Linked DNA regions of Homo sapiens: region 2 is linked to region 1. The links come from fine-mapping of genetic effects on gene expression. Tissue or cell type: whole blood. Region 1 holds a variant in brackets; the other region holds the start of a gene. All regions are shown on one strand. Distances are from middle to middle.

Region 1 (2,910 bases):
AGTGTATGCTCTCACAGTTCTGTGAGTCAGAAGACCAACATGGGTTTCTTTGACTAAAACCAATGTGTTAATAGGCTATGTTTCTTTCTGGAGGGTCTGGGGGAAAATCCATTTCCTGCTAATTTGGGTTGTTGACAGAATTCAGTTCCTTGCTGGTTGTCAGTGGAGGGCCATTCCCAGCTTCTGAAGGCCCCTGCATTCCTTGGCTTATGGCCTCTCCCTCCATCTTCAAAGCCTGCAATGGTGGGCTGAGTCCCTCTCATACTGTGAATCTCTCTTCCTTTTTTTCCCCTCTCATCTTTTCACTTGCAACTGGGAAAGGTTCTCCACTTTTAAGGACTTGTATGATTATAGAGTCCACCTGGATAATTCAGATACACTCTCTATCTCAAAATATTCAACCTTAATCACAACTGCAAAGTCCCTTTACCATGGAAGGTATCATATTCTGGGGGATAGAGAGTAAACATATTTGGCCGGGCGTGGTGGCTTACGCCTGTAATCCCAGCACCCTGGGAGGCTGAGGCGGGCAGATCACGAGGTCAGGAGTTGGTCAGCCTGACCAACATGGTGAAATGCTGTCTCTGCTAAAAATACAAAAATTAGCCAGGCGTGATGGTGTGTGCCTGTAATCCCAGCTACTCAAGAGGCTGAGGCAGGAGAATCGCTTGAACCTGGAAGGCAGAGGTTGCAGTGAGCCACGATTGCGACACTGCACTCCAGCCTGGGCAACAGAGCAAGACTCCGTGTCAAAAAAAAAAAAAAAAAAGGAGACACATTTGTGGGTCCATTATTCTGCCTACCTCAAAGATATTCATTAATCGAGGTGGGGGGTGGTGGTGCTAGAGATTTTCTTTAGAACTTTGAGTGAGCTCCTCTGTGAATCAGAAAGATATTCTTGTAAAGTCTCTAGCCTTATGCTTGTGATATTTAAGAGCTTCAGTGATTGCCATTTCTTGGAGAATTCCTTTATATTTTAGCACACTCTCAAAGAACATTATTACCCTTCCCCACTGAGTTTTGCTCAGAGTCTCAATGTCATTATTTTATTCCTTGCGCTCCCTTTTTTTCTTAGAGTCATCAACTATAATGTAAGTTGCTTTTCCTTGTTGTATATCCTTTCTTCTGGATCTTTTGGAGAGGGTTCAGATTATATATTTTTCCTGTTTTTTCAGAGTGGGGGAAAAAGTCTCCAGGAGAGGAGAAGGAGTTTTCTCACTTGCCTGCTATTTCATTTCCCTAGGCTTTCAAATTTATACACACAGTCCATGTGTTCTGATTTTTCCACACAGACATTTTCTAACAGAGATGTTTGTGCAATTTCTTTGC[A/G]TCTTCACTTCATGTTACGAATATAGCCAAATTCAAAAAATATACCCAGCCAGAATAAATGTTTGATCTTGTATCACTGGATTCTTGCATATAACTGGCCATTAAGCAACTAAAACAACTGGACTTCAGAACAACTGAATTAACAAATACATTGATAATCTGATCAATTTTTTGGTTGGATAAGATCCAAACATTTTAAGATCTGGCATTAAAGAAAGAAAAAGAATATATCACGCATTTTTCAATTTAGTTAATTAACAGCTCCTAAATTTAGTGTCCTATTTCTGGTTATGTGTTAAATTTACCCATGGTGTTGTCCTTTACATTTGAGAAAAATTTAATGAAGTCTTTCTATAGGGAAGTGTTAAAAGTATAATGCCAAGTGAAAAAGAGATTATAAAATAACACATACAATGCAATTTATTAATGTATGTTTCACAATATAATTTTTCTATAGTACACAAAATAAAAATATAAAACAGATATACATATATATACACATGAATGATATTAGATCTAGTTGACAAACAGTGCAAGCTTTCACCTTCCCTCCAATCCTGAATCTATTAAAATAAAAAGCTATATTTTAGAAAGAATACATTTACAGCATTCTAGGAAAACATGAAATGAAACCACCATTAAAAGACCAGGAAATTCGAGACATTCCTGGAAAGAAGATAGAAATGAATGAGAGGAGACTGATAACAGGCGTGAACAGAAAACTACATCCCGACACACCCGTGAGTGAAAGGCCAATTGGGGAAATTCCAAACTTAGAGAGAACAAATGGAACAAGAAGAGAAGTAGCCATGGAGCAATGCTTCTAGTGAGTCATAAACAGCTGCATCAGGTCAGAGAGGACAGCCCAGAAACCATCTCTCTCCTGTCTCCTGGTTTATACACACAACACACGTGTTTGATCCCAGGTTAAAAGTGGAGAACTACACTCTGAAGCAAGCAAACTTCCTTCCCTTAAGGCGTCCTGGTGTAGGGGCCTAGAATAGAAAAGCAGAGCTTAAGATAACTCCAGACTGCTACAACAATCAGGGAGAGAAAAATGAAGACACAGCTCTCTCCAAGAAGGAAATACATGAAAGGGCTAAGGGGGGAGGATCATTTGAGGCAGGAAGTTCAAGACCAGCCTCGATGATATAGCAAAACCCTATCTCAAAAATGAAACAAAACAAAACAACAACAGGGTTTCACCACCAACCCATTGAACTATTGCCATGGTTTGCCACATAGTTGACTAATATCCATGTTGACATGAGAAGCGCGATGCCAATTTTTTGTCTCTTTTCATTGTAGGTAACTGGCTTTCTTCTCTCTGGAGATGTCATTCAGCAGGCTTTTTCAATCTGACAACTGGTGCTTTTCTTCAGCTTGGGAAATTTTATTTTATTTCTTCAATTACTTCCCCTATTTTCTCTGTTCTCTCCTTCTGGAGTTTCCATGAGTGAATCTTTTTCAATTTTCAATGTCTTTCAATTTTCAATGTCTTTCAACTTTCCTATCATATTTTTCTTTTAACTGATTTTTTTTTTTTGTCTTCCTTCTTGGATCCTTGCAAGGGTGAGCTCT
Region 2 (2,891 bases), 28 kb after region 1:
CGTTAATTAATGTTCTGACCCAGTGTCGGAGAAGGGGGTTTTCTAGTGCCCTCTTCTATATCTTTTCTTCATTCTGGATGGTAAAAATGTGAACTTTAAAAAGACCCCTGACAGCGTAACTACAACTCAACATTCCTTAACATAAAATGGGGACTAAATAATTCCTTCCATAACCAATCCCAAACAAACAAAAATAACAAACACCCGACATGACATATTCCAAACACTTCTTAACCCTTTCCTATATATAAAATGCAGACACCAATGTGTAAAGTAGCAGGCAAATGCATCTAGAAAAGTATATCTACGTAAATTTGGCTGAATTCATCCTCTTCAATGGTAAGCATGTTAAAATATGTGGTCTGAAGTTCCCTATCACTCTCGATTTGCCCACCAGCCGGGTCTGCGGTGCCCGTGCAAACGCTGCAGCTAGGATATAGGGGGGAGGAGGGGCGGGAGAATGACAAAGTTCTAAATGCAGCAGTCTGAGCCCTGGAATATCTTTGCTTTCAGCACATAAACTTTCCAGTCCTGGCTGCCTAGCCATTTTATTCCTGCATTCACATTTCGACTCTTCAAAATCATATCTTGCAGTATCGCAGGGGCCAGTACATTGCCCCAGAGCGCACCAAACCTGGTATAAACCCAGAAAGGGAAACAAAAATGGATGTGTGCTCAGGAAAAAGGGGGAAAAAAACCGTGTCCAGAAAATGTCCGGCCGCACACATTTCCTGGCGAACATTTGGAATCTATAGCTTTAGGAAAAACCGATCTGGGACGCGCTAGTCCCCAGGAACTGATGCCCCCACCCTCGGGGGATTGCCGGCTTCTCCGCACCCTGGGGCGGCCGCGGACCCGCTAGTCCCCCTCCGCGCCTCGGGCCGGGGCAGGCTGCCTCCCGCCTCCAGCCTCCAGCCGGGCTGAGCGGCCACTTACCTATTTGCACCGCGAGGATCAGTGAAATATATCTGCCGTTCAACTTAAGTCCCATCCTACGTTTAGTCAAACCATTTGCGACCGCAGACCTTTAAATAGTTAGTTTAGAGAACGCGGGGGAAAGCCAAAAAATAGGCATTGCCAACAAGTTCCGGGAGCGACAGAGACTTTATGCACTGGGAAGGCAGAGGGAGGAGAGAAAGAGAGGGAGCGAGGAAGAGACAGAAAGAGAGAGAGAGAGAGAAAGAGAGAGAGAGAGAGAGGCTGAGGGGGGGGGGAGAGCTGGGAATGGTTCACTCCATTAGAAGGGGGCGGAGGAAGTACAGCCTCACGCCCACGAGCAGGCCTGACGTGGGGGATGACACGGAATGATTTTTTTTTTAATATAGACACCTTGGTAGAGAATCGCCATTTATAGTCATCAGAAGCTGGAATTAATCAGATATCTCCAATTAATGTGCGATCTGAACGAAATTTTGCCTCCCGGGGGTGAGCACTTTCCTATTCTAGCGGTCACCCCTGCCTCTTCCTCGTTCCGGGGGCCCCCCAGCCCCGCCGCCTCCCTGCGCAGAACAGGGGCTCCCCCTCCCTTCCCCGCCAGGAGCTGGGGAGTCCTGGCGCGCCCACTCGATTGTTTCAACCTGCTCCCCCTCCTCCATCAGCACCACAGAGAATCCAGCCCGCTCTCTACGATGCAGGGGGGTTTAAAGGAGCGGGAGAGGGAAAAACAGCTAAGCTAGCTCGATTAATTCGAAAGCGCTCCTCGGCCGCCCGCCCCCTGCGCTTGCCTACCCTCTTTTTCTCCAACCCAGCAGCTGAGCTCTGGGCGCAGCCTGGAGCGCGTGAGCACGCAGCCCGGCCCCCCGCACGAGCACACACACACACACACACACACACACACACAAACGCGCGCGCGCACGCCCGCCAGCCGCGCCGAGCGCCCCCATGCCCGCCCGCACACAAGGCACGCGAGCGCGCGCACACGCCCAGGCCCCGGGGGTTTGGTTTGCACACGTGGGGCCCCAGAAATAAACACCGAATGTCCTCTGAATTTTACCCACCTGCGATGCCCCAGCGGGCCAAAGGCCGCTTCAAGGGACACAGCGACACCTGTTTTAGGGGGCGAGTAGGGCACCGGGGAAGGAGCCTCTGATAAGACAGTTTTCGGATACTAGTGATTTACCAACCAACTCTCAGCGCTTTAGGAAATTTCCAAGGCAAGCGCTGGTGTGCGGACTTCTTTCTAATCTTGATGCGCCTCTTGGGCTTATTTGTTGGGCTACACACACACGTACCCACACGCACACACGTACATCACGTACGCACACGCACACCCGGACCCACACACACCTGCACTGTCTTTTGATGCTCAGGCACAGACCCTGTGTAGGTGTAGCCTACCCTGCAACAAAATACTTCTGCAGCTGGCTTTGTGCTAGGTGCAAGCTGCTATCGACGACAGCTTGAGTCAAAACCGAAAAACTAACAGGGCTATTTCCTTTCTAAACGCCTTTAAGCTCTGGTTTTCTTCCTTTCTTCTGCACCAAACAGAAAAAAAAAAAGTCTAAATTGTAGCGTCTTTAATAAAATGCTAAAGAAGGCATTGGCCAGCTTTAATCCTTAAGCCTGTGGAGAGAAAAAAATGAAAACGACCCCCCAAATTTTGCCAAACTACACTAGAGGACGTCAAGCTGTCAAACTGTAGAAATGCACACGGATTAAGGAGAAGCGTTGAATTTGCTTCTACAGGCAGCTTGCCCTCTAGGGCCAATCTTGCCGTCCCCATACTCAGATATTTGGAGATGCATAGACAAAGGGGGAGAAAGGTGCAAAATAACGGGGGTAGGACAGGCTGTGGAGGGTAGGGGGCCGAGGGGAAGCTGCGGGGGTCCTACTGCAGCACTTGGTGACGTGAGGTGTCTGCAATGTGCGGCCCCTAACTCACGTCCCGCGGG

What was found. PIP is the estimated chance that this variant, and not a neighbour inherited with it, causes the effect.
Region 2: it holds the start of NRN1, and the variant in region 1 is fine-mapped to the expression of NRN1 in whole blood (INTERVAL, PIP 0.98).

The regions. Positions count from the first base shown.
Region 1 is chr6:5,977,675-5,980,584 of GRCh38, forward strand. No RefSeq gene overlaps it. Among named protein-coding and RNA genes, the nearest start is that of NRN1, 28 kb to the right of the region's middle. The variant A/G (reference allele first, on the strand shown) is at 1,330.
Region 2 is chr6:6,005,759-6,008,649 of GRCh38, forward strand. It overlaps NRN1 (neuritin 1), which reads right to left and starts at 1,167. Exons shown (of 3, transcript NM_016588.3): 1 at 937-1,167. The coding sequence starts at 991.